7 linked regions of the Homo sapiens genome follow. The protein of the gene in region 2 interacts with the protein of the main gene of each other region in a pairwise test. Each region holds a gene or a part of one and is shown on either strand. Other genes may lie near its edges. The genes, in order: PCMTD2, SPRED1, RAB11B, AXIN1, GFAP, ZNF649 and MESP1.

Region 1 (4,083 bases), on a different chromosome or scaffold from region 2:
GGTCAGATTCCCTTCATAACTGACATTTCTGCACACTGTGTGCCAAGGTCTGTTCTGGGCAGTGTACGGATACTTACTCTTTTAACAATTTCCTGCATTTCACAAATGAGGAAACAGAGGCAGGGACAGGTGAGGGAGATGCAGGGTCACGCACATGCCCTAGCTGGGGCCAGAAGCTGACTCAGGTGGGTGCTTCAGAGCCTGCACGTGAAACGCTTTTCTCCACCTTCCTTCTCTGTCTCTCTCTTTTTCCTTCTTCTGTCCCTTCCCCCTCACCTCCCTCTTCCTTCCCCTTCTCCTTCCCCCCAGCTGTTCTGAGTTTTAATTCTAATTGTTAATCTATTATAATTGTTCTGCTGTTAGAATTATATATAAAATAGAGTCATTCTATTCTCATCATTAGTCTAATTGTTACATGCCTTGATGTTATGCATTTGACAGGAATCCTTTGCCTAGTGAGAGTCTTGTCCAAGTTTGCTGTTTGGTCATGCTTGTTTGTCTGTGTTACTGTATGTCACTGGGAAAAATAGTTTATAGTAAATGAACAGATTAATCAGACATGAATTGGTCACCAAGAAGAATGTCTCCCAGTCACAAAGAACTAGGAAAACACAAATAATAAAAATTAGGAGGTTTTAATTGTTTTAATAAAAATTTGGAGATGAGATCTTGCTCTGTCATCCAGGCTGGAGTACAGTGGCATGATAATAGCTCACTGTAACTTCAAACTCATGGGCTCAAGTGACCCTTCCGCCTCAGCATCCCAAGTAGCTGGCACTATAGGCACGTGCTGCCATGCCCAGATAAATTTATTTTTTAAATATTTATTTATTTATTTATTTATTTAGAGACAGAGTCTCGCTCTGTCGCCCAGGCTGGAGTGCAGTGGCGCGATCTCAGCTTAGTGCAACCTCTGCCTCCTGGGTTCAAGCGATTCTTCTGCCTCAGCCTCCTGAGTAGCTGGGATTACAGGTGCGTGCCACCACACCCAGCTAATTTTTGTATTTTTAGTAGAGACAGGGTTTCACCATGTTGTTCAGGCTGGTCTCAGAGCTCCTGACCTCATGATCCGCCCACCTCGGCCTCCCAAAGTGCTGGGATTACAGGTGTGAGCCACCGTGCCCGGCCTAATTTTATTTTTTTAGTGATGGGCTCTCACTGTGTTGCCTGGGCTGATCACAAACTCCTGGCCTCAAGCAATTGCCTCACCTCAGCCTCCAGAGTTGTTGGCATGAGCCATCACACCTGGCAGAATATTGTTTTAAATGTCTTTGCTTATACAAGTGATATTACAGATCTTTGTTGCTATACAAAATGCATTGGATTTTTTATTGGAATTGTATCATCTCGATAATTTGAGGATTGTGGCCATCTTTACAATGTTTCATCTGCTTATCTAGAATATGAAATAGGGGTTTATATAGTTTTATTTAAGGTTTTATACATCATTTATTGATTCTATTGAAATACTTGTTTTTCATTGTAACTAGAAATTCTTTTAAAAATGTTTAAATAAACATATGTTTTGCTGGTATACAAGAATGTTTGTTGATATTTACTTAGTACGTGGCGACTTAATCCTTTTAGTTATAAGATTCATGACATAGAATCTTAGTTTTTAGAGGATTTACTGACTTAGATATTTTTAGAAAAGGCCAGCATATAATCATAGCATGAAAGAACTGACCAGAAATAGTTTTGTGACCTGTGTAGGCCACTTGGAGACTGACCCAGCCACACAGAGTGCACAGAGGGTCATGTCTAATTGTGGTCTCTGGTGCTCGTAATACTTTAATTCAAAAGAAATGTTTTGATGGCCTACACTGGAGTGTGTTAAGCCACCAGATTCCGGTGCTTTCGTGGGGGTGATATCAGGGCAAGGCTCATTTAAACACTTCAGTATTTGTCTCCAAAGCATGAGGATAATTGCCCAGGCATCCAAGATGACAAGTTTGCATTTAAAAAAGTAACAGGGATTCTGTAACAGTATCTGTTACTACAGTGCCTATCAGGACTTAGCCACCCTCCCAATAACAACAGGTCAGGATTCAGTTGGTTGGTAACGTATCTGTAATTACTTTTTGCTTTAGAACAGACCCCCTTTTCACCCTCAATATTGACTTTTTTGGAGAGTGCTAGAGCATTGTCTTATAAGAATCCCCACACTGTCTATGTGGTTGTTTCCTCTTGCTATCCTATAACTAGTTTCTCTATAATATATAGTTTCTGTAAACAGAAGTTAGGCCTAGGGCCTGAATATATTCAGGTTAGCATCTTTGCAGGAATATTCATAAGGTAGATGTACTTCATGGCACATCACATTAGGGGTCCGTATGTCAAGATATTTCATTTTATTGTAAGCATTTCTATGTATTTTTATAGTATGTATAGGAATGATTAAATATGAGCTAAATAGTAGCCAATTCTTTTGAATATTCTCATTTTGTCTCTGGGATAGTTGACTAAGATAACACGCACAGGTCCTTCAGCTTGGGAAACCAAAAAGATTCTTGCTGTTTCTTTTGCTCCTCTGATCCAGCCCTGCCATTCAGAGTCAGGAAAATCAAGACTTGTCCAGTTACGTAAGTATACCAATCTTTACTTATTTTATCTTTTAGATCTTTTCTCTCTGGTTAGATTTTAAAAGGAAACAAAATTTACAACAAACCTTTTGATATTAAAAAGCACCACTCCCATGCTGAAACTGTAAAATTCTACAAGCAATTTCAGGCATTATAAAAATTATAATCTATTTTTAACCTATTTCAGGTAATTTTAGCCGTCTTTTAAATCTACAAAGAGCTGTTGCCGGTCACACCATTGAAAGCCGAGGACGCACATAAAAGGGAGCTCATTTTGCCATGTGGGAGACTTAGCCTATTTGCCGCCTCCACTGGGAGGGGCTTACAGAAAGAGCCATCAGCCAGAGGGCTCCTACAGAGTCATGGGGCTTCTGCTCCCCAGGGCGCCAAGCGCCTGCTGCCTCATGGGTAGACAAGGTTAGAGAACACATTCCAGCTAATCTGCTGGGGTGTGGATAGGAGACTTTCCGTGGAACCTTACACAGCCGAGCCTTTGTGTTTCACTATTTCAGGATGCAAACTGAGCAAGGAACTGATACCAGGGCCAGCACGACAGCAAAACCTCCTAATGTTTTAAAATTTAAACGGCTCACACAGAAATGAGAGTTCCAATTGATTTTATTTAAAATAAAACTATCAGGATGCTCTCTGATCATTTAGAAAATTTGGAAAATGCAAAAAATAATAGGAAGGGAAAAGTTTTGCATAGTCTTACAAAAAAAAAAAAAAGTTTTGCAAAAAGTTTTACATTTTGGCAAATCTCTTCCAGAAAGGTTTTTTGATTTATTAGGAATCACCTATGAAATGATTACACTTTGCTTTGGTCTCTACTAAGTACAGGTTCTAAGAACTAGACACGGTTCTTGAAATTTGATAATGAGCAACAATAGGACATGCAAAACGGTTAATTAGGGAAGGTTTGGCAGAGGGTGATGTCTGTGCTTGGCCTTCAAGGGCAAAAAGGAGTTCCCTAAAGAGAGAAGAAAGGGGAGAAAAGTACCAGCAGTGGCAGGACATAAATCAAAATGCGTGTTCCCCGTGTAGTCAGAGTTGGGACTGATGGGAGAAACTACTGGTATGTAGGTTAGAATTGGGTTTATCATGTAGGCTGGGGAGAGCTATCAGATGCTTTAAATAAAAGATACAGTGCCTGTGTATCCTGGATAAGCCTGGTTGTCGTCGGGTGGAGGGTGAATCTGTCAAATGCGTGCTCTGAAAGTCTCATCAGAATAACCTTTTAAGTAACTGCCGCCCTTGGCGGGGAGGGCACCAGCTTCCAGAGCCTTAGCAGAGTTTGGGAAGGCAGGGGCATCTTCGGGGTATTTATGAGACTTTTTGAGGGTCTGGTTGAAACGAGCCGTTCCCTGTGGGGTTCGTCTGGCCGATGAAGAATCATGACAATGTGGTGGGCAGTTTGGATGCTTGTTTTGAGGAGATGGCTTTGAAGAGAGTGTTAGATGATCAACAGTAATGTGATGCTTTTAGAGTTTCTGAAGTGACC
Region 2 (4,083 bases):
TGCATTTTTTTATTCCATCTTAATCTCTTTATTGAGTGACTTTGTGAAGTAGACCACTTTATTTAAAATACTAAAAATTATTCATTAAAAAGTAATAGCGTTGTATCACCTCAGTTTGTATTTATGAGCTACATTAGATGCATTTGATATATGTATATTAATTTTTGGTATTTGGCTTTTGTCAGGTGGTTTTGGAATGTATGCTTAAAAAAGACCTCATTTATAATAAGGTCACTCCAACATTTCACCACTGGAAGATTGATGACAAGAAGTTTGGTCTTACGTTTCAAAGTCCTGCTGATGCTAGGGCTTTTGATAGAGGTATCCGAAGAGCTATAGAGGATATTTCTCAAGGTAGGTATTCTTGACTATTTTCTTAATTTATTTATCGGTTATATATAGTAGAGGTTATCTTTCTTAAAGTTGACCCAAAGTAGTTTTCACACTTTAACCATGTCAGCTTTTGTGATATGTGACCAGGCTTTGAAACCTCACAATAGATGAAGATAAAATAATAGATTCCTTAACGTGATTTGTATTTGTCACATCATAGTCTATGTCAATTGCATGTATTATCTTGAAGAGTCCATCAACAGCTGACTTCAGATAATTCAAATGTTTTAAAATAAGAGCTTGAAGGAAGAGGGAATAGAAATGTACAGCTGCGAGAATCCCAGTTGGTATTCTACTTGTGTATGTATGACACCAGTCACATCCTTTTTTTGGGTAATTATATAGAACTTGTAATATTCAAATGTATGTAGACTCTAGTTATTCCATGACAAAAGTCTTTACTTGATTGATTTCATTATTGAGGATTGGCAGAGACCACAAGCTCATCTATTCCTTTGTTATCTTGCCAGTCTATTAAAATTATTAACTCAAAAGCATACAGGTTTTGAAGGGAAGAATAATGTTTTTTCATGTAAGACTGGCTTATGCTTACTTAAACAAAAATCACATTAAAACCCATTTCTTCCCATAAAGGAAGAACTAAGACTTGATTTTTTTTTCTAATTAGGAGGAAAATTATTTCAATTTAACTAACTTTCTATATAAAGTAACTGAAAGTGTGCTAGACTACGTTGTGATTTGTGTTATTTTGAAGATGTCATTTTAATAAGAAAATCTGAAAACATAAACTGTGAGACCAGTCACAGGCAAGAACATGGAAATACATTGTACAAATCTGTTTTGATAGTGCATAAAACTGTAGTTAAGTAATTTATTTAGCTACTTTAAAAGATTAGAATTTGGTAAATGAGTAATTTTTTATTCTGATCCAGAAAAAATTACTATGAAGTAATAGTAGCCATTTTGTCTTTATTGTAAGACCCCATAAATTCTCCTTAGATCAGTGTTCTTAACCTTGGCTACACATTAAAATCACCTGGGAAGCTTTTGAAGCTTAAAATGACTAGTCTGCACTCCAGACCAATTGAATCTATCTGGGGAATAGAGTCGAGTCATCCCTTATTTTTCAAAAACTCCAAGAAAGTTCAAATATGGTGAAGAATTGTTCTCTAGTCAAGGAATTGTAATTTGAATTTGAAGAAAAAAAAATAAGAAACTTAAAAAAAAAAATACATGATGTTCTGTGCCTCATTCCACAGAGATTCTGATATATTTTGGTTTGACGCCATACTCTGGCATCAGTGTATTTTTTGACAATTCCTCAGTTGATTCTAACCTTTAGCCAGGTTTGAAGAACCAGTGCTTTAAAGAGAGAGAAAAATAGTATCCATGGCTGCTGGAATTTATATGATTTAAAGTTTTGAATTACTTTTAAGTTTATGCTCATGTACCATAACAGTATACCTCTTTCACTAGGATCAAACAGATTGGGTTTAATGTTTTAAAAAATGATTTATAAGGAGTAGCTTACAAACTTCTAGGTAGAGTAGACTACAGTACTTAGTCTGCCTTGTTATTTTTGAACATTAAAAAACATTAGCTAGCATTATTATCAGCTGCTATATAGACTTTCAACAATCTCAAATTGCTTTTACTCGACCTTCTGTGACAAAAAGATAAAATATGCTGCTCTTTCCAAAGGGCGCATTTCTTCTTATCTCATGCCTACTCCGTGCTAAGCTGTGCCTCTCAAGGGTAGCATGAACTAAGAGTACTTTGCTAGGACAAATCCTTTCTTATTAATTTATTGAAACTAAAGGTACTCTTAACAGCATGAAAATCTGTACAGAGACGTTGATGCAAAAAAGTCAGTAACAACAATTGGCCATTAACTGTCAATAGTGGATTAAAACTCATTTGTTTTCCATCTTAGCTAAAGCAACTAAAATCCTGGTTATGGGTACTAAATACTGTTTCCTGGGTCAAAGCATTTAGAAAAATTGAATAAATCACATCTTAGCATCACCAGAGCAATGTAATTATAATCTGCCTAGTAATTTTGAGTATTTGGGAGAAACTAGGGGCAGGGGTAGCTAGAGATAGTATACTTTCAGAGAAAACATCTCGTTAGTAAGCAGCTGGAAATTTACCTATAGAGGAGGGAAATAATTACATTATTCTCCATTATTCTAACAGGGGCAAATGCAAGTGGCCAGTACCTTAATTGCCAGGCAGTCCAGAAAGATCTCTGATTAGTCTTCTAAAGTATTATAATGACATAATCAATTAGTCATTAATACTGGACTCTAAGACAAAAATTCTATACTTAATTAACTTTTATCTATTTTCTTAGGATGCCCCGAATCAAAAAATGAAGCTGAAGGGGCAGATGACTTACAAGTAAGTAATGGCTTGGAAGGAATTTGTAAACATAAAGGATGTGGAAGAAATCACTAGCCTTATTCAATAAACTTATCAATTACTAAGAATATTTCTAAGACACTCTATTTGTCAGATTTCTCCAGAAGAAAAGAACCAATACAGGTTGAGCATCCCTCATCTGAAAATTTAAAATCTGAAATGTTCCAAAATCTGAAACTTTTTTTCTTTTTGAGACAAGGTCTTGCTATGTTGCTCAAGCTGGTCTCGAACTCCTGGGCTGAAGCAACCCACCCACCTCCCCACAGTGCTGGGATCATAGGCCTGAGCCACCGTGCCTGGCCCCAAAATCCGAAACTTTTTGAGTATGGACATGACACCTCAAGTAGAAAAAATTTACACTTGACCTCATGTGATGAATCACACTAAAAATGCAGTCAGAATTTTGTTTCATGCACGAAATTATTTAAAATCATGTATAAAATTACCTTCAGCCTGTGTGTTATAAGGTGTATAAACATAAATTTCATCTTTAAATTGGGTACTATCCTTAAGATGTCTTATTATGCACATACAAATATTCTGAAATTTGAAACAGTTCTGGTTCCAAGCATTTCAGATAAGAGATATCAATCTTTATATAGAAAGTAAAGTTTCTGGGGTTTTTTTTTTCTTTTTTAAGGAAGTGGTTCATAAGATTGTGGGCTGGGTTGGCAGAATGGGCAGGCACGCTGAAAATTGGCACAAGTTGATGTTGCAGTCATGAGAAGGCCGAATTCTATTTTCTTCAGAGGACCTCAATCTTTTTTCTTATGCCTTTCAACTAATTGCGTGAGGTCACCCACATTATGGAGGATGCCTAACTGCCATATTAAAAGGACATTCAAGCAACACTGTGTAGATATTCATGTGGTGAGGAACTGAAGCGTTCAGACAATAGCCATATTAGTGAACCACCTTGGAAGCAGGTTATTCAGCTCCAAGCAAGCCTTAATAGATGACCAGTTGTGGCATGTTTTCATTGCAACCTTATGAGGAACCCTGAGCCAAAACCATCTAGTTAAGCTGCTCTTGAATTCCTGGTCAACAGGAATTGTGAAATAATAAATGTTTGTTATTTTAAGCCACTAAATTTGGGAATGATTTTTGACTAATGCAGATTCTGAAGACCTGAAAATGGAGTGCTGCTGTAACAAATACTAAAACATGGGAATGACTTTGGACTCAGGACTCAGACAGTAAATAAAAGCTGGAAGGTCTTTGAGGCGAGTTTTAGTGAAGTTCCGAAGAGACTTACTGGAAGCTTGAAGATCTTTGGATAGAGCGTCAGTGAGGGCTTAAATGAAAATG
Region 3 (2,870 bases), on a different chromosome or scaffold from region 2:
TGGGCAGGGACGCTGAGATTCGGGGGCGTGGGCTTGCAGCGCGTGGGCTTGGAAGGATGTGTAGGAGTTGGGCAGGAGAAGGGGAGAGTGTGCTCCCAAGACCAGGGAGTGAGGCTGGAAGAACGCTTTAGCCATGCGCCGTGGGACCCTCAGGCTGACCAGCGCCCAGCCTTCGCCACACCAGGGTATCTCTGGGTACCAAGTGCAGTGAGGACCTAGCTCAGGCCACTCCGCCTTGCCGCTGCCCCTGCCCAGCCAGCATCCCAGCCTTCCTCCTCCCTCAGCTTCCCTCCTCACTGGTGCCCACACCTGGTCCCACACGCCTCCTGTCCTCCCACCTGGGCCTGGCCTCCATTCCCTGCAAAGGCTTCCCAGCCATCAGGACCCACTCAGCTGCCTTTTTCTGGACCCCTCCCAAGCCCCCCAGCCATTCCCACCACCGTCTTGAGATCCTCTGGGCTCCCTCCCATCTCCTTCATCCCTCAGGTACATCTGTCTCTCTGTCACCTCCTCTTGTTTTTTTTTTTTTGAGATGGAGTTTCACTCTTGTCGCCCAGGCTGGAGTGCGATGGCACGATCTCGGCTCACTGCAACCTCCGCCTCCTGGGTTCAAGCGATTCTCCTGCCTCAGCCTCCCAAGTAGCTGGGATTATAGGCACATGCCGCCATACCAGGCTAATTTTGTATTTTTAGTAGAGATGGGGTTTCTCCACATTGGTCAGGCTGGTCTCAAACTCCCGCCCTCAGGTGATCCACCCTCTCGGCTTCCCAAAGTGCTGAGATTACAGGTGGCGTGAGCCACCGTGCCTGGCTGTCGCCTCCTCTTTTTTGGAGACAGACAGGGTCTTGCTCTGTCGCCCAGGCTGGAGTGCAGTGCCACAATTGCAGCTCACTGCCCCCTTGACCTCCCAGGCTCAAGCGATTCTCCTGCCTCAGCCTCCTGAGTAGCTGGGGCTACAGGCCTGTGCCACCATGCCTGGCTAATTTAATTAATTAATTTATTTATTTTTTAGTTTTAGTTTTTGAGACAGAGTCTCACTCTGTCGCCCAGGCTGGAGTGCAGTGGCGCAGTCTCAGCTCACTGCAAGCTCTGCCTCCCAGGTTCACGCCATTCTCCTGCCTCAGCCTCCTGAGCAGCTGGGACTACAGGCGCCCACCACCACGCCTGGCTAATTTTTTGTATTTTTAGTAGAGATGGGGTTTCACCGCATTAGCCAGGATGGTCTCGATCTCCTGACCTCATGATCTGCCCGCCTCGGCCTCCCAAAGTGCTGGGATTACAGGCGTGAGCGACCCTGCCTGGCCTATTTATTTATTTTTTTGAGATAGAGTCTCACTCTGTCATCCAGACTGAAGTGCAGTGTCACAATCTCGGCTCACTGCAACCTCCGCCCCCCGCCCCCCAGGGTTCAAGCAATTCTCCTGCCTTAGCCTCCCGAGTAGCTGGGATTACAGGCGCCTGCCACCACGCCTGGCTAATTTTTGTATTTTTAGTAGAGATGGGGTTTCACCATCTTGGCCAGGCTGATCTTGAATTCCTGACCTCGTGATCCACCTGCCTCGGCTTCCCAAAGTGCTGGGATTACAGGCATGAGCCACGACCCCCGGCCAATTTTTGTGTTTTTCTAGTAGAGATGGGGTATCGCCATGTTGCCCAGGCTGGTCTGAAACTCCCAGCCTCAAGTGATCCACCCGCCTCAGCCTCCCAAAGTGCTGGGATTACAGGCATGAGCCACCATGCCCAGCCCCTTCTTCCCTTTTTTTGATGACCTCACGGTATCTTCTATTTCCAGCTCCCAAACTCCCTCCTCAGACCCCCACATTTCAGAGCTGGATCCAGGGAGCAGCGCTGGGGCCTCCAGACACACACCCTTCCCTTGAGGCCACAATGACTGCCCCTTGGCTCGGCCCTGGACGACCCACCCTGGGCGTGATGTGTGCTGTTATCCCGTGAGGCTGCCGCTGCCCATGGTTGTCCTCCAGAGAGGCTCATGGGCCCCTGACCCTGCAGGTACTACCGTGGTGCAGTGGGCGCCCTGCTGGTGTACGACATCGCCAAGCACCTGACCTATGAGAACGTGGAGCGCTGGCTGAAGGAGCTGCGGGACCACGCAGACAGCAACATCGTCATCATGCTGGTGGGCAACAAGAGTGACCTGCGCCACCTGCGGGCTGTGCCCACTGACGAGGCCCGCGCCTTCGCAGGTGAGCAGACGGAGACGCAGGCATCAGAGAGGTGTCTGGAAGGCAGGAGGCCCCTCACAGTGTTGGGGCCCTGGCCACAGCCCTGGCTTCCCTTCCCTGAGGAGTGGCCTTGGGATGGGCCAGGTGGGTGGGCGGGGTCCCTGAGAGCATGTGGGAGCCTGTCACCCTGCCTCCCCACTCACCTAGGCAGTATTCTTTGTTCCAGAAAAGAACAACTTGTCCTTCATCGAGACCTCAGCCTTGGATTCCACTAACGTAGAGGAAGCATTCAAGAACATCCTCACAGGTGGCCGGGGACCAGATGGGTGTGGGTAGGGCACCAGCCAGGCAGGGTGGAACACGGCCTCTGAACCTTCGCTTGTTTTGTTCGTTTGCTTGTTTTTTTCTTTTTTTTGTCGGGGCAGGATGGATTTTTGCTCTTTGCCCAGGCTGGAGTGTGGTGGCTCGATCTCAGCTTACTGCAACCTCCGCCTTCCAGGTTCAGGCAATTCTCCTGCCTCAGCCTCCCGAGTAGCTGGGATTACAGGTGCCTGCCACCACACCCGCTAATTTTTGTAATTTTTAGTAGAGACAGGATTTCACAATGTTGTCCAGGTTGATCTCGAACTCCTGGGCTCAAGTGATCCTCCTGCCTCAGCCTCCCAAAGTGCTGGGATTACAGGCGT
Region 4 (3,975 bases), on a different chromosome or scaffold from region 2:
TTACAGGTGTGAGCCACCATGCCTGGCCGGGATGTTTTTATTGTGTGGTCTGTGGAGGACGTCCATGTGGCTTGGTGGCCAGGCCCCAGTGCCCCATCCCATCCTATCCCTCAAGGAGGCTGCCCTTGTGAGATGAGTGTAGCCCCACCAGGCCACCTGGCCAGGGTGTCGGCCACAGTCACAACTTGTTCTCTTGTTCCCCAAGGTCTTCGGGGACGAGGAAGCCACAGCCCCATGAGAACTCCAGACCCTTGTCCCTTGAGCACCCCTGGGCCGGCCCTCAGCTCCGGACCTCCGTGCAGCCCTCCCACCTCTTCATCCAAGACCCCACCATGCCACCCCACCCAGCTCCCAACCCCCTAACCCAGCTGGAGGAGGCGCGCCGACGTCTGGAGGAGGAAGAAAAGAGAGCCAGCCGAGCACCCTCCAAGCAGAGGTACGGCCGCGTCGTGGGGTGGGGTGGGTCTTGGGGGTTACCACAGCACCACTCCTGGGGCTGAAGCTCCCCGAGGCCTGAGGTCTTCAGGGGAAAAACGGCCCTCTGGGTGTCCCCCAGCCATACTGGGCCCTTCCATCCACTGAGAACCACTGAGGGGCCACGTGGCAGGCCACCCTGCGGTGGACGGAGGCTGGGGCTGGAGCTTTCACACACCCGAGGCCGCCGCGCTCATTGCTCTGGAGGCGGGGTCCCTCCTCAACCTGAGCCCAGTCTGCAGGGAGGCTGCAGGGCCCCAGTGTGTGGGGAACGCCGGTCCCCAGCCAGAGGCTGCTCGCTGCTGGGCAGCCTGGGCTTTAGGGCAGAGGTCCTGGAGGCATGGCGGCTGCCTCTTGACAGTTGCGTCCCAGGAGCCCTGAGTGGCTCTGCACGGTCGGAAAGCTACGTGGTTCTGAAAGCCGTGCAGATGTAGAAGTGTCGTCCTGGACGTCCAGCCCACAGCCCTCCTCGCTGTGTCCTCTTGTCATCCTGGATGTCCAGCCCACAGCCCTCCTCACTGTGCCCTTCTCTCATCCGGGACGTCCAGCCCACAGCCCTCCTCACTGCGCCCTCCTTGGTCTTCTGGGCTCCGTAGCCAGACCCTGTTCTCTCCCTAGGGCAGGGAGGCTTCTGTCTGGGCTGCAGGGAGGTCTCCCCTTTGTGTGGGCAGCATTTTCGCTCCAGGCCAGAACCTGGCTTCTCCATTTTCAGCTTGCTCATAAGGCCAGTTTTCTCGGCCATCCTGGGTCATTGGAATTCCCCACAGATCAGTGTCTCTTTGAGGGTCCTGGGAGCCTATAGCTCACCCAGGCCCTGGGGCTGTGGTCACAGAGGCCATGGTTGCCTTCAGAGGTCACCAGCTCCTCCTGTCCACCTTGGGTCACCTGGGGCCTGGGGTCCAGGCCCGCCTCCCGGGCCTCCAGCTTTGGGGCTGTGCCACTCCAGGGAGGCTGTGGCTAGGGGCCTTATTCTGCCGAACCAGCATCAGGGTTCAGACCCTTCCCAGCTGAAAGCCTGTGTGGTCTCAAGTCATTAAAGGTTCCTGAGCTTCTGCCAGGCTGTGAGCCTAATGACAGCTCTGGGGCCAGAAAGGGTCACAGTTACCTCAAACCCAAAGGGTGACCACTTTATGACCAAACATCTGTGACCCTGTGATCGTGTTCGGCCAACAAGGAGCTGGAGCCCCCTGCCATGCAGGAGCCTGGAGTGTGGTGCTCGGAGCCGGGGCGTGTGACTGGGCTGGCAGATGAGCCGTGGTGGGCATCGTGTGCAGCAGGTCCGAGGCCCTGGGCGTGTGTGGGCTCTCCTGCCGGGGCTTCCTGAGCCATCCTTGCTGGGCTGAGCAGGGGTCTCTCAGGTTGCGTCTGCGCTTTCCCCTGGTACCCGTGGCCCCACATGATGGCAGGGGATGCCCGCTGAGCCGTGGGACCACTCCCGCCGTTCTGAGACACGACCCTCCCGCCCGTTTGGCTGCTGGGCTCCAGCATCCCCCCATGGGGAAACCCAGAGTTGCTGGGTTTGTCCGTCCAGGGGATGTGGGTTTTTGCGAGAAGCTGTGGAGACGGAGTGAAGGCCCAGAGGCAGGTTGGGTGCTGGGCCCTGTCAGGATGTCAGAGTAGAAACCACCATCAAGGTCGCCCAGTGTACCCCGGTGGAGGTGTCCACGTGAGAGGAGCTGCTGTGCTGCCCCAGGATGGCCTCAGTTGTGGCGCCGGGGGGCCCTCAGCCTCCCTGAGGTGCAGACCGAGTTGCCACGCACGCCCCAGAGCCAGTGTCCACGCTATCGGTGGGGAATTCATGCCAAGAGACTGAAGGACAGACTCTCGGGACGAGATGTCATCCCACCAGAGGGGATGAGGTGGTGGGATCCCAGCACCCCTGATCGGAAGCTCCCCAAAGTGCGGTCCAGGGAACTCAGGGGGTTGGTGCCGGGATCATGAATGTGGGGCGCGCTGCAGTATCGGGTACCACCAAGGCAGGCCTAGGAGGGGACTCGGTGTCTTGTCTACCCTGCAAACTGGAGCCTGCGCAGGGTGGGTTGTTCGGGCCCTTCACGCTCCGTCCGTCCCTGCGCAGCAGCATTGGTCGAGGCTCCCTCCCCAGGGCTGGTGGCCGCCGGCACAGCCACCTTTGACGCGGGTTGTTCCCTAGGTATGTGCAGGAGGTTATGCGGCGGGGACGCGCCTGCGTCAGGCCAGCGTGCGCGCCGGTGCTGCACGTGGTACCAGCCGTGTCGGACATGGAGCTCTCCGAGACAGAGTACGTGCGTCCTGAGGGTCCTCCCGGTCCTGCCCACCCCAGCCCTGGCGTCCCAAGCCAGGTCCCATCGTAGAGCCGCCGTCCCGGGGCTTGAGCTCGGGTACCACGCTCAGAAGCAGCTGTGGCAGGAGAGGGTCCCGTGGCATCAGACTCGAAGCTGCCCGAGAGCCTTCTCCTGTCTCCATCAAAGGAGACGCTGACTGTCCAGCATGATGACAAGTGACCAAAAGGCCCGGCTGGAGGCCTGGGCACAGCCAGCCCCTGCATCCACACAGGTGTCACGGCCAGGCTTCCTGTGGGGCAGAGACCTGCCTGCGCCTCCACCCGGCTTGGAACGGGCCGGTCCCTGCCAGGCCTGACTTGACCAGGCTCGGGGCTGCAGGTGCTGAGGTGCCCGGGGTGCGTCTGCTTGCAGTGTGGGTCTCAGCCATGCGTGTCTGTCCAGCCCGTGCAGTCAGTGAGTCGGGGCTCTGCTCCCACCTACAATGCTGACTGCTCTGAACCCGTGAGAAAGGGCTCAGACCATGTGATCCCACATGGGCCGTGTCGACGGCGCCTTTATGTGCTCAAGGTGGCAGGAGGAGGGGGCACACCCCAAAAGGGGCCTTGAGAACAAGGGTCCCCCAGGCCTTGCCAGGCTTGCCCCAGATGCAGGTTTGTTGTGGCCCTCATCGTGTAGGCGGTCTTGGGGCAGCCTTCACCTGTCCCTGGGGCAGCCCCCACGTGTTGGCTCTTCTCTGATGGGCCTGGCTCCAGGAGGCTCCGAGGATGTGGCACTGGGAGGACGTCTAAGAGCGCACGTGGCTGGGGGCCTGGTGTGCAAAGAGGATGGTCACATGGCTCAGGTGGCCATGAGGCCTTCCTGCCCTGGTGTTGGCTCTGGAAGCCTCTGGTGCACCCAGCCAGGAGGAGGCCCAAGGGCTGAACCCCAGTGGGCCAGGGGCAGCTTCTGGAGTCACTTGAAGGACAGGTGGCGGCGGGGTAGCCGAGTGGGGGGTGCGAGAGCAACCAGGCCCCGCCCGTCATCCCGGCACGGCTGTGGAAGCACAGCACCTGTCAGAGGAGGGCCCGGCTCAGCCTGGGCAGGAGACGGTGCCAGCCCTGCCCCCTCTGAAGGGCCTGCTGGCCACCCCCGCCCCAGTCCTCCGACAAACTTCGCTGCGGGGTCAGGCTTATCCAGAAATCGTGCACAGTTCTGTTTGTCCAATCCCTGCCCTTCAGATGTTTTTAAGGTTTGGGGG
Region 5 (4,083 bases), on a different chromosome or scaffold from region 2:
CCAAACATAGTGCCCGTAGAGAACACCACAGCTCAGAGCTTATATGTAGTGTGGGAGCCAGGAAAGACACTGTAGAGGGGGCATTTGGGCTAGGCAGGACAGGCACGCTGTGGACAGGAAGAGAAGAAGGGAGGGCCATTCCTAGTGGAGGACAGAGCCTGGAGGCAGAAAAGCACAGAGAGGCAGGGCCCCAAGATGCTAGCCTAGCCAGGGCACCTAGCTGAGGAGTGTGAGTGGCAGAAGCCACTGGTGTCTGAGCAGGGTGAGGGCCCGATGGGGCTGGGAGGACCTCCCTGCAGGCAGGGGAGAAAGGGCTATTAGAACCCAGGGTGAGGCCAGGCGAGGTGGCTCACACCTGTAATCCCAGCACTTTGGGAGGCCGAGGCATGCGGATCACCTGAGGTCAGCAGTTCAAGACTAGCCTGGTCAACATGGTGAAACCCCGTCTCTACTAAAAATACAAAATCAGCCGGGTGTAGTGGCGCATGCCTGTAATCCCAGCTACTCAGGTGGCTGGGGCAGGAGAATTGCTTGAACCTGGGAGGCAGAGGTTGCAGTGACCCGGGATTGTGCCACTGACTTCCAACCTGGGCGACAAGAGCAAGACTCTGTCTCAAAATAAAACAAAAAAAACAAAAAAACAAAAACACACAAAACACCCAGGCCTCCGCTCGCCTAAGACGACAGCGTTCAGTCCCGCAGATGCAGCTGTCAGTGTGGAAGGTTCTGGATTCTGTGGCACTGTTCATTCATTCGCTTGCTGACCAGGTGTTGTGCTAGGTGCTGAGGTCTGGCAGCCCGCTACCCTGCCCGCATCCATGGGTCACAGTTGTTGGGAAAAGTCCCAGCCAGGGCCAACGTCCTGGGGTTAACTGGGGTGCTGCTCACCTCCCTGATTTCCCAGAGCCCGTGCCTGCCCATGGGCCCACACAGCCCCCCATATGTGTCCCCCACCTAGTTTGCAGACCTGACAGACGCTGCTGCCCGCAACGCGGAGCTGCTCCGCCAGGCCAAGCACGAAGCCAACGACTACCGGCGCCAGTTGCAGTCCTTGACCTGCGACCTGGAGTCTCTGCGCGGCACGGTGAGCGCGGCCAGGGCAGGACGGGGACGGGCGGAGCAGGGACGGCCACCCCAGGAGATGCCAGGGGAGAAGGGCCAGGGACGAGGACCTGGGTCGAGGGCGGGGCCTGAACGTTACCCCCGGGCTAGAGGCGGGGCCTGGGGCCGGGGGCCGGGCCTCGAAACCTCCCCAAGTCGGGTCGGGGCTCCGCGGGACCGGCCGGCTCCATCCCACAGAACGAGTCCCTGGAGAGGCAGATGCGCGAGCAGGAGGAGCGGCACGTGCGGGAGGCGGCCAGTTATCAGGAGGCGCTGGCGCGGCTGGAGGAAGAGGGGCAGAGCCTCAAGGACGAGATGGCCCGCCACTTGCAGGAGTACCAGGACCTGCTCAATGTCAAGCTGGCCCTGGACATCGAGATCGCCACCTACAGGAAGCTGCTAGAGGGCGAGGAGAACCGGTGAGCCCTCATCACAGCCCCTGGGGAAGTCTCCCTGCTGCCTCACGGTAGAGCTCATCTTGCTCCCTTCAGGGACTGAGTCTTTTTCAGCCTTGTGTGCAGATCCCTTCCCACCTCAATGCCCAGCACAGTGCCTGCCTCACACATAGCAGGCAGTCACTAGATGTTTGATGACTGAATGGATGGATGGATTCAACCAATATTGATTAGGCCTCAAGGCCAAGGACTTGGGTCACCCTCCAAACTAAGAGGCATACTCCCCATCTTCCCAGCCAAGATTGGACTCCTCACCTCACCCATCTCTTCTGCCTCCTTGGAACTTTCTTCACCACTTTCCCCTCCCTTTTCCATCTTCCTTCAGATAGACATGCGCCCCTCCCAGATAACACTCAAGCCCCTTGCAGACGTTTGGAACTCCAGATAGCACGTTGGCTGCTGGGGAAAAAGCTAGGAGATGGAGTTAGACTTTCCTGGCAAGGAAAAGGGCGTTCAAGTTGTCATGATGGCCCCGCACCAAGACCCAGCCTAGGGGTGTCCCAGGCAGCCCGGGCAGCCCTCTCCCTCTGCTTTCTTTCAGGATCACCATTCCCGTGCAGACCTTCTCCAACCTGCAGATTCGAGGTCAGTACAGCAGGGCCTCGTGGGAAGGGCACTGGAGTCCTGCCCCCTCCTCCAGGGCCTGTAGGTTGCTCCAGACTGGGACTGAGGATCAGGGCAAAGGGATCCAGCTCTCCCTGGGGGCCTTCGTGACACTGCAGCGCTCCTAGCCAGAGCCTATCATACCAGGGTACTTCTAGGTGGGGCTTGCAGCTGCCCCTGTCCTGCTAGGCCCTGGTCCCTCTTCCCCTCCCTGCACCCCATTCGACAGCAGAACTGGGTGAGAGCTTGACATCTGCCCTGTCTGCAGATCCCTGAGCAAGCACTGCCCTTCTGAGTGTTTTCTGTTTTTGTTTTTTTAACTGCTTGTCACTACAGGGGGCAAAAGCACCAAAGACGGGGAAAATCACAAGGTCACAAGATATCTCAAAAGCCTCACAATACGAGTTATACCAATACAGGCTCACCAGATTGTAAATGGAACGCCGCCGGCTCGCGGTTAGCTGCCTGCCTCTCAGACACGGCGCTTTGCCCAGCTTGACAGGGAGTGAGCCTCACCCACCCCATCCTCCCAATCCCCCTGAGTTCCCTCTTCCCAGGCTTCCCCTAAAGGGCCTGGACTGCGTCATTTTCCCAGGAACTGCAGTGCCCAGCCCAGGACGTGGTACAGAGTAACTGTACATTAAACTGGCAGAGCTTGTTAGTGGTAAAGGTGGTGAGTCCTTGGGTGCGCAGTGGAGCTGCTCTGGGGCCTCTGAGCAAGCAGCAGCCTCTGTCTCACCTCTTCCTGTCACTGGGAGGGCCCCTTGGGTCTCGCTGTGCCTGGACGCCAGGCTCTCTGCTTTATTCTTTCATCCCTGAGGCTCCATCGCTCAGCTCAGTGCTGACTCAGTTCAGAGGATTCTTCCCTCAGGACCGCAGCTCTTGCAGTGAATAAAGTTTTATGTTCCCTGCTCTTAATGTTAAATATTAGTGAATGTGACGTGTTATATTTTTCTCTCTCGGGCGGGGCGGGGGGAGGGGGGAGCTAAATTACTTTTTACTTGCATTGGCCCTGAAATGATTCTTAGCTAAGGAACAAAATTCCTCTTCTTCTGGACTAGAATATTTAGGACCACTAGATATGCATGTCTCAGGACTTAATTCAGCATCAGAAAGGCTAACCAGGCTGACTAGTAGAGGTAATACTGCCAAATCCTAGATAGTCACAGGTCACTAAAGCACAGATAAATGGCAGAGAGAAGTAGGAAAGAGGAAAGGGGACAGGAAAGGGACCTATGTGTATTGAGCACTAATATGTGCCACATGTTTAACAGCCTTTATTTTAGTTAATTGTCTCCTCTCTCCCACCTAGAGAAGTAGGCCCCATCATCCTTATTTTACAGATGAGGAAACTGAGGCTGGGAGAGGTCAATTAACTTGCCCAGAGTCATGTGGCTGGTTGGTGGCTAAGTTGGGACTTCTTGAGCTCTGGTCTCCTGATCCTTCCTTCCTTCCTTCCTTCTTTTCTTCCTTCCTTCCTTCTTTCCTTCCTTCCTTCGGCAGAGCGTCCCTCTGTCACTCAGGCTGGAATGCAGTAGTGCAATCTTGGCTCACTGCAACCTCCACCTCCCAGGTTCAAGCAATTCTCGTGCCTCAGACTCCCGAGTAAGGGGATTACAGGTGCGAGCCACCACACCTGGCTAATCTTTCTTTTTCTTTCTTTCTTTCTTTCTTCCTTCCTTCCTTCCTTCCTTCCTTTCTCTTTCCTGCTTGCTTGCTTGCTTGCTTGCCTGCTTTCGACGGAGTCTTACTCTGTTGCTCAGGCTGGAGTGCAGTGGCACGATCGCAGCTTACTGCAACCTCCGCCTCCCAGGTTCAAGTGATTCTCCTCTCTCAGCCTCCTGAGTAGCTGGGACTACAGGCACCTGTCACCATGCCTGACTAATTTTTGTATTTTTAGTAGAGACAGGGTTTCACCATATTA
Region 6 (4,711 bases), on a different chromosome or scaffold from region 2:
GTCCAGGGGACCGGTGCTCAGCATACAGAGGACCCGCGCCGGCACCGGTCTCTGAGTCCCTCAGTATTTATTGATCATTATCTCTACCATCTCGGAGAGGGGGATGTGGCAGGACAATAGGATAATAGTGGGGAGAGTGTCAGCAGGAAAACATGTGAACAAATGTCTCTGTGTCATAAACAAGCTTAAGAAGAAGGTGCTGTGCTTTGATATGCACATACATAAACGTCTCGGTGCATTAAAGAGCAGTATTGCCGCCAGCTTGTCTCACCTCCAGCCCTAAGGCGATTTTCTCCTATCTCAGTAGATGGAACATACAATCGGGTTTTATACCGAGACATTCCATTGCCCAGGGACGAGCAGGAGACAGATGCCTTCCTCTTGTCTCAACTGCAAGAGGCCTTCCTTCCTCTTATACTAATCCTCCTCAGCACAGACCCTTTACGGGTGTCGGGCTGAGGGATGGTCAGGTCTTTCCCTTCCCACGAGGCCATATTTCAGACTATCACATGGGGAGAAACCTTGGATAATACCTGGCTTTCTGGGGCAGAGGTCCCTGTGGCCTTCCGCAGTGTATTGTGTCCCTGGGTACTTGAGATTAGAGAGTGGTGATGACTTTTAACAAGCATACTGCCTTCAAGCATTTGTTTAACAAAGCACATCCTGCATAGCCCTAAATCCATTAAACCTTGAGTCAACACAGCACACGTCTCTGTGAGAACAGGGTTGGGGGTAGGGTTACAGATTAACAGCATCTCAAGGCAGAAGAATTTTTCTTAGTACGGAACAAAATGGAGTCTCTTATGTCTACTTCTTTCTACATAGACACAGTAACAGTCTGATCTCTCTTTCTTTTCCCCACAGTGCACTGTTGTTAGTGCTCCAACCTCACAGTGCAGGGGTTGAGGTGTCAGGAGAGGGAACACATCAGTGCCATTTCACTGTCTCCTGTGTCAAAGCAAAATTAAAATGCAGACCAGAATTCAAAAACTCCTGAGCAAACAAAACCCAGTAGGCCTTAAAAACAGCCTTAACCTTGCTTAACCTGCAAACATAAGCAACAATTCACTTGAGTCATTTCTGGTAAATGCTTGTGTTAGGGAAGGACAAAACTCAATCTCAACCGATCAAAAGTAGGCAACTCACATGCTATTATGTCATTAGGGACTTTCCAAGGCAAATTTAAAAAAATGCATTTTTATAATTGTAACTAATCAAATAATTTCTTTGTTTTACTCCTTCACTCACCCTGTGAATACTTGTGTCTAATGCTTTAAGCATAGAAGCGCGAGACTTCTTTTGGTTTGATGCTTCCTAATTCATGAATTGCTGTTTGTTCAGATAAACTCTAGAAAATGCTCCTGCGCCTCAAATTTTTGCTTTCAGGAGAGTCATCCCGGTTTAATGACACAAGAACAACTGTTTCCCTTCTGTACGGCAGATCTACCAAGATGGCCGCGCCCAGAGAGCCGTGGCTCAGGGCGCGGACATGTTACCTCCTCGAAGAGAAGCCCATGTCCCATCGTCCTAGCGCGGCAGAATTGACTCGCGCCCTCGTCCGCCGCCATAGGCCAGTGCCGGGGTTTAAGGGCCAGGAAAGGAAGCATTCAGGGAATTTAGGTGTAGCCAGAAGAAAATCAGGTGAGTGTTTGGGTCTCTCCGTGGAGTAGGTTAAAGGGGTAGGGAGCTTCTGAGGAGCCTGTGGGGAGAGCTGGCGGCCTGGGCGGTGGAGCCTTTGGGTTGGGGTGCCTTTGCGGTCCGGCGTGGGAGAGTTCTTGTGGTCGGGCGTTAAAGGTCTGTCGAGTTCAGCGACTGAGACTCGGCGTCAGAGTTTGGGGTCTCTGAGGGTCACTCTGTTAGTAGGCCTCTGGATCACTGGATGGAGAACTCTAGGGGGACGCTGCCCAGCACGCCGGCTTTATCACCGACGCCATTATTATCACTCCAAATGCTGCAGTTTAAAGTCGGTGATGAAGCCGGGGTGCTGGGCAGCGTACGAGGGTGTGTGGTGTAGGTTTTGGGGTGAATCGGGGATGTGTGTTAAGTGTTTCGGGGAGGCCCAGGCATGTGGGGCTCAGAGGCTTGTAAAATCTGGTATTTTACAAGCCCAGGCCCCTGGCTGGGGTTGAGTTGTGAAACTATAACCGCCCACCCTTGCCGGCTGCCTAGACAGAGCCGACTTGTTAAGACAGGGAAATTGCAATGGAGAAAGAGCAATTCATGCAGAGCCGGCTGTGCGGGGAGACCGGAGTTTTATTATTACTCAAATCAGTGATAAAAGAAAAATTGAAGCCGAATTAAATTTACAGGAGTTTCCTTGAGCAATGAACGATTCGCGAATTGGGCAGCCCCCAGAATCACAGCAGATTAACAGAGACTCCAGGGGTGCCTCGTGGTCAGAACAAATTTATAGACAAAAAAGGTAAAGTGACATACAGGAATCGGAAGCGAGGTCCAGAAACAGTGAGATTGGTTACCATTCGGCGTTTGCCTTATTTGAACGCAGTTGGAACATTCAGCAGTCTATGAGTATGGCCGCTGGGACTGGCCACCACTCAGCTATTGTTACAGGTGCATACGATTAAGTTCGGTTTTCAATTTTGTCTGTTAAGCTAGGTTGCAGTTTATCCACAAGGACTCAAATATAGAAGTATGGAGTCGTTCTCAGGCAATATTTAGTTTGCTTAAGCATCAGTCTCCTTGAGCATTTGGGGATCAAAGTTTCCTCCTATCCCCCAGACGGAATCTAGCTCTGTTGTCCAGTCTGGAGTGCAGTGGTGCGATCTCAGCTCACTGCAACCTCCGCCTCCTGGGTTCTAGCGACTGTCCTGCCTCAGCCTCCCGAGTGGCTGGGATTACAGGCGCCCGCCACCACGCCCGGCTAATTTTTGTATTTTTAGTAGAGACAGGCTTTCACCACGTTGGCCAGGCTGGTCTTGAACTCCTGACCTCAGGTGATCTGCCCGCCTCGGCCTTCCAAAGTGCTGGGATTATAGGCATGAGCCATCGCGCCTAGCTATGATTGTTACGATTTATAAGAAATGTATAATCGATCTTTGTCCTGTTTCCTGGCACATGTCTCCCAAAAGCCTTGGAACCTCTTCAGTAAACAGTGCCTTTTTGTGTGGCATTGAGATGGCTGGTGACTGGGGGCTTCTGGCTGGCCTTAGGACGGGGGAGGCTGGTTGCCAGGGCAACTAACCATGTCATTTGAGGGTTGGAAATTTTAGCTCTGCCTGGCAACAGGGAAGTTGAAGGTTGAGTTGATCACCAGTGGTTAGTGTTTTAATCAAGTATGCCCACATAATGAAACCAGCGTAAAAACTCAAAAGGACTGGTGAACTTCTGGGGAACTTACAGATTCTTGAGCATGTGGAGGTGCCTGAGGGTGGTGAACTGAGTCTCTAATAAGCTTCCGTGGAGGGCATGGAAGTCCCACGCCCCTTGCTACAAACCTTGCTCTGTGCTATCCCTTCCATCTGCCTCTTCATCTGTATCCTTCGTAATATCCTTTATTCCTTTTCCCATTTGCCCTGAGAATACTCACCTTTGGTGCTTGCAGCTGGAGCATTTACCCCGAGATAACTTTGCCATGAACGATCTCACTTTTATTATTTTCACATCGCTCTAGTAGGTCGCCTTGGGAAACAAAAGACATCATTCTACTTATAGCATTCTGTTTTTAGTAGTGGTATTTCCATTTACAAAATGTAGTAGTTCTCGATCACTGAAAATGTCAAATCCTAGAAAACGTAGCATTCCTACATGTGATGTTAACATCATTCTCAAACAGTTCTTGGCTGAAGACTCACTGGATGGATCCGATTTTTACCAAATCGAGAATTCTGATGATTCCAAATCGAGAATTCTGATGATTCAGATGATTCTGATGTTAGTTCTGTTTAGAAATAACTCCTAGAACAGCTTTTATATTTTATTTTCACATTGAAAATCAGATTTACTGCAGCCTCAAAGAGCATGTTTATGTAAAATGAAATAAGCGCTGGCAGTGAGCTGCACTTCGTTTTTCTAGACAGGAAAAGAGTTGAAATAAACCAGTAAATGTTAAGTGCTTTCCTGAGTTCTGTGAGCCATCCAGCAAATTAATCGAACCTGAGGAGGAGGCCGTGTGAATCCTGATTTATAGCTGGTCCATCAGAGGTACAGGTGACAACCTGCTGCTTGCAACTTGCGTCTGAAGTTGGGGGCAGGCTTGAACTGAGCCCTTAATCTGTGGTGTCTGACACTATATCTAGATACACAGTCTCAGACTGAATTAAATTATAGGATGCTGTCTTAGCCTTGTTGGTGCTGCTATAACAAGATAGCTGAGACTGGATAATTTATAAACAACAGAAATTTATTTGTTATAGTTCTGGAGACTGAGAAGTCTAAGATCGAAGCACCAGCAGGTTTGGTGTCTGGTGAGGGCCTGATTTCTGCTTTCAATATGGTGTTTTGTCGCTATTTCTTTGGAGGTGAAGAATGCGGTGCCCTCACATGGCAGAAGGCAGAAGAGCAGAAAGGGCCGATCTGTGTGTGAAGCCTCTTTTATTTTTATTATTATTTCTTCTTTCTTTAGGTTTTTTTTTTTTTTTTTTTTTGATACAGAGTCTCACTTTGTCACCCAGCCTGCAGTGCAGTGGCACCATCCTAACTCACTGCAGTCTCAACCTCTCAACCTCCCAGGCTCAAGCAGTCCTCCTGCCGC
Region 7 (3,767 bases), about 51 Mb from region 2:
TGAAAGGTGTCTGCGGCCTTTTCGACCAGCTGAACACCATAATCCTCTTTAAGTGGCTGAATGGTCACACCTCTTCCATTGACAAGCTGGGTTAAGTCAATAGGTTGAGTAGGATCAACACGACCCAAATCAGTAACATATTACAGTCTATTGATACTTAAAGGTTGATACTGGTGTCTGAAGCTAAGTCCTTCATTAAATCTGTATTTTGGGATTCCGATGTAAAATAGAGTCTGGCCATCCCCAAAGCCCAGCAGAGCCAGTTTCCTCTCTGCCTTTCTCTTTTATGGCCTCTGCCGCATTTTCTACCTCTTCTCCGACCTTTTGGTCGTCTCATGGGTTTCCTGGAGCCAGGATTCCGCTTTAAATTGGTCAGGCTCATGCGCAGCAGGGCCCAGAGCTGCCATAACCTGCGAAAAGAGTTTTATTTCTTCCTTTCTGACCTGTATGTCTTTTGTTTCCTAATTGCATAGCCTAGATCCTCCATCTGGTACAATGTTGAATAGGAGTGGTAAGAGAGACACCCTCGCTTTGTTCCTGCAATCGGGGGGTGGGGGGAAGATTTCAGTCTTTCACTACTCAGTATGAGGCTACCTGTAGGTTCTTTGTAGGAGCCTTTCATCAGGTTGATGAAATTCCTCTCTATTCTTAGTTTGCTGAGAATTTTCATCACGAAGGGTGTTGGATTTTGTCAAATGCCTTTGCTGCGTCATTTCCACTCACATTTCATTGGGAAAACCTGTTATACCTGTCCAATAGCGGCAGAACATCAGGTAAAGGCCAGTGGTGACAGCTGTGGCAACAGGCCAAGCTCCAGACCTTGCCAGGCTAGAGGTGGCCTGGGGTTGGAGCAGGCTTAACCCCCTCCCTCTGCTCAGAAGGTCCAGCATCCTGACCAGACTCGGCAGCTTATTGAATTTGCCGGGGTGCAAGCTTCCTTGCACTGTCCACATGTTCTTACCAGGGAAGGGTCTACCCAGGGCCATCCTGCCTCAAAGGAGAAGTGGTTTACTGTTTTCTCCACCTTTAGAGGGAATGAGGGTCCCTGCTCCTGGTCCTTACTCTACTCCACTGTCCAATTGGCGCATGCCCTGAGGCTCTCATTATACAAATTGGAAGCTAAGGTGCAAAAGAACTAAGAATTTGCATAAGGTCCCCAACAGGTGAAGGCAGGCCCCAAACCTAGGATCTAGATTTCGTTTTTCTGACCCCGCTTCCTTTAACCTGCAGGGCTGGCCCAACGCCCCGGGCTTCACCCAACACTGGGCGCAGGCGGGAAGGCCGAGAGGCTGGGTCGGGCGCCCAAGCGAGGGCCCAGGTGGGGCGAAACAGGCGCAGTCAAGGGGCTGGCACCTTGGCCCCCCGCCGTGGATTCAAAGGGTCAGGCTCCGCCCCCTCCAAGCCCCGAGCCCACTTTGATGTGCTGATGCGGCCTGGAAGGGGCCACTTCACACCTCGGGCTCGGCATAAAGCGGCCGCCGGCCGCCGGCCCCCAGACGCGCCGCCGCTGCCATGGCCCAGCCCCTGTGCCCGCCGCTCTCCGAGTCCTGGATGCTCTCTGCGGCCTGGGGCCCAACTCGGCGGCCGCCGCCCTCCGACAAGGACTGCGGCCGCTCCCTCGTCTCGTCCCCAGACTCATGGGGCAGCACCCCAGCCGACAGCCCCGTGGCGAGCCCCGCGCGGCCAGGCACCCTCCGGGACCCCCGCGCCCCCTCCGTAGGTAGGCGCGGCGCGCGCAGCAGCCGCCTGGGCAGCGGGCAGAGGCAGAGCGCCAGTGAGCGGGAGAAACTGCGCATGCGCACGCTGGCCCGCGCCCTGCACGAGCTGCGCCGCTTTCTACCGCCGTCCGTGGCGCCCGCGGGCCAGAGCCTGACCAAGATCGAGACGCTGCGCCTGGCTATCCGCTATATCGGCCACCTGTCGGCCGTGCTAGGCCTCAGCGAGGAGAGTCTCCAGCGCCGGTGCCGGCAGCGCGGTGACGCGGGGTCCCCTCGGGGCTGCCCGCTGTGCCCCGACGACTGCCCCGCGCAGATGCAGACACGGACGCAGGCTGAGGGGCAGGGGCAGGGGCGCGGGCTGGGCCTGGTATCCGCCGTCCGCGCCGGGGCGTCCTGGGGATCCCCGCCTGCCTGCCCCGGAGCCCGAGCTGCACCCGAGCCGCGCGACCCGCCTGCGCTGTTCGCCGAGGCGGCGTGCCCTGAAGGGCAGGCGATGGAGCCAAGCCCACCGTCCCCGGTTAGTGTCCCCTTCCCCGCGCCCCCTTCGTCCGTGCCCCCGCGCACAGCCCCACCGCCCGCCAAGGTGAGGACCAGGCACCCTGCTGCTCCCCGCCGGCAGCCTGGCCACCTGGCCACCATAGTATGCCCAGGGCTCCAAGAAGCGAAGGCAGGGAAAGGCCACGCAGAGGACTGGGTCTCCCCTCGCTAGGGGCCCCCTGAGAGTGGAGCCCACGAGCGCGGACACCCGCACAAGGCCACCAGTGCTTGAGGGCTGCGCTGTTCCGTCTCTCCCTACAGCTCCTTCCGGGCGACGTGCTGGCTCTGTTGGAGACCTGGATGCCCCTCTCGCCTCTGGAGTGGCTGCCTGAGGAGCCCAAGTGACAAGGGACAACTGACGCCGTCTCTGTGAGCACCGAGGCTTTTTGGCCTCAGCACCTTCGAAGTGGTTCCTTGGCAGACTGCCTTTCCTGGAAGAGGGCACGGGCGATCCCGACGGGGGCATTCCTGCGGGTGAGAGCCGTCCCCACCGCGGCGGCCCTTCTCAGCCCCTCCCTCCATGGAGGGACCCATAGGGCTAGACACTTTGAGGCAAGCAGGAGGCTCTGCCTAATGTGAATTTATTTATTTGTGAATAAACTGTACTGGTGTCAGTTGGCAATTTCTTCTTCCTACCCGTGGACACAGAGCTCCCTCTCTCCCTCCAAAGAAGAGCATGGGAGAGGTGGGAGGGGTTCTTGCAATCTTTAGCCCCCCGACCCCCACAGGCCCAGACCCCTTTGGCCTTACCCCCAGCCCTGGCTCAGCATCTAGTCCAGATGGGTCAGCCTGGAATGGGTGGGGAGGGACGTCCTGTGAGAAGGCAGCGGCAAGTAGAATCTGCTCATCTTTTCTTTGAACCTGGTGGGGAACTGGTTAAAACCAAAATATCTGTGTAGAAATACAACTCCATTATTGAGTATTTATTGTATGTACATCAGGTACCTATTATACTCAAGTAACCATTTTACAGAAGGATGAGGATCAGCGCTCAAGCCCAGGTAGGCCTCCAGAGTCCCAGCGCTCAGCTCTTGTGGGATTTTGCCAGCTCCATACATGTTGGGGCCTGAGGGATAACAGCTCCAAGGGGTTATTTTCTTGCATCCTGTGGTCTTATTCTCCATGCACGGGAGCATCCTGGCCTTGGAACTCCCCCACCCTCCGCCGGCATTTTCCCATCTGCCTTTTCTCTGGTTTCCCCACCTTGTGGCTTAGAGACATAAATAATGGTGTGGCGGTCCTGAGTTTATATAACCATGACCTCCTACAGGCCTAGATGGGGTGAGATGAGGGGCCCATGGGGTTGCATCGGAATCCACACAGGCAGTTGCGTGCCTGTCTGCATTGGCTGGATTCACATCAGGGAGCAAGAAACGGGAGGCTTGAGCCCAGAAAGTGTGTCCTCATCCAGCCAGGGTGTCTGGGCAACAGTCATGATTAGAGGGTGCGGTGGGGAGAAGGGATGTGTAGCCTCTCTGCCAAGCGTCCTTTACCCTCTATGGATAGATACCC

Evidence for each region.
Region 1: the proteins of SPRED1 (region 2) and PCMTD2 interact in binary tests that used the Homo sapiens proteins (3 or more experiments, as listed by UniProt).
Region 3: the proteins of SPRED1 (region 2) and RAB11B interact in binary tests that used the Homo sapiens proteins (3 or more experiments, as listed by UniProt).
Region 4: the proteins of SPRED1 (region 2) and AXIN1 interact in binary tests that used the Homo sapiens proteins (3 or more experiments, as listed by UniProt).
Region 5: the proteins of SPRED1 (region 2) and GFAP interact in binary tests that used the Homo sapiens proteins (3 or more experiments, as listed by UniProt).
Region 6: the proteins of SPRED1 (region 2) and ZNF649 interact in binary tests that used the Homo sapiens proteins (3 or more experiments, as listed by UniProt).
Region 7: the proteins of SPRED1 (region 2) and MESP1 interact in binary tests that used the Homo sapiens proteins (3 or more experiments, as listed by UniProt).

The regions. Positions count from the first base shown.
Region 1 is NC_000020.11:64,265,429-64,269,511, forward strand, and holds part of PCMTD2 (protein-L-isoaspartate O-methyltransferase domain-containing protein 2), read left to right. Parts: coding exon 1-1; intron 2-2,458; coding exon 2,459-2,582; intron 2,583-4,083. UniProt on the Homo sapiens protein: May act as a substrate recognition component of an ECS (Elongin BC-CUL5-SOCS-box protein) E3 ubiquitin ligase complex which mediates the ubiquitination and subsequent proteasomal degradation of target proteins.
Region 2 is NC_000015.10:38,322,056-38,326,138, forward strand, and holds part of SPRED1 (sprouty-related, EVH1 domain-containing protein 1), read left to right. Parts: intron 1-185; coding exon 186-354; intron 355-2,707; coding exon 2,708-2,754; intron 2,755-4,083. UniProt on the Homo sapiens protein: Tyrosine kinase substrate that inhibits growth-factor-mediated activation of MAP kinase. Negatively regulates hematopoiesis of bone marrow.
Region 3 is NC_000019.10:8,400,075-8,402,944, forward strand, and holds part of RAB11B (ras-related protein Rab-11B), read left to right. Parts: intron 1-2,011; coding exon 2,012-2,205; intron 2,206-2,410; coding exon 2,411-2,491; intron 2,492-2,870. UniProt on the Homo sapiens protein: The small GTPases Rab are key regulators of intracellular membrane trafficking, from the formation of transport vesicles to their fusion with membranes.
Region 4 is NC_000016.10:289,949-293,923, reverse strand, and holds part of AXIN1 (axin-1), read left to right. Parts: intron 1-205; coding exon 206-436; intron 437-2,626; coding exon 2,627-2,734; intron 2,735-3,975. UniProt on the Homo sapiens protein: Component of the beta-catenin destruction complex required for regulating CTNNB1 levels through phosphorylation and ubiquitination, and modulating Wnt-signaling.
Region 5 is NC_000017.11:44,908,673-44,912,755, reverse strand, and holds part of GFAP (glial fibrillary acidic protein), read left to right. Parts: intron 1-958; coding exon 959-1,084; intron 1,085-1,299; coding exon 1,300-1,520; intron 1,521-2,097; coding exon 2,098-2,141; coding exon of another isoform or gene 2,142-2,287; exon of another isoform or gene 2,288-2,495; coding exon of another isoform or gene 2,496-2,620; exon of another isoform or gene 2,621-3,084; intron 3,085-4,083.
Region 6 is NC_000019.10:51,901,844-51,906,554, reverse strand, and holds the start of ZNF649 (zinc finger protein 649), read left to right. Parts: upstream 1-1,537; 5' UTR 1,538-1,641; intron 1,642-4,711. UniProt on the Homo sapiens protein: Transcriptional repressor. Regulator of transcriptional factor complexes and may suppress SRE and AP-1 transcription activities mediated by growth factor signaling pathways.
Region 7 is NC_000015.10:89,748,977-89,752,743, reverse strand, and holds MESP1 (mesoderm posterior protein 1), read left to right. Parts: upstream 1-1,494; 5' UTR 1,495-1,512; coding exon 1,513-2,235; intron 2,236-2,516; coding exon 2,517-2,600; 3' UTR 2,601-2,869; downstream 2,870-3,767. UniProt on the Homo sapiens protein: Transcription factor. Plays a role in the epithelialization of somitic mesoderm and in the development of cardiac mesoderm. Defines the rostrocaudal patterning of the somites by participating in distinct Notch pathways.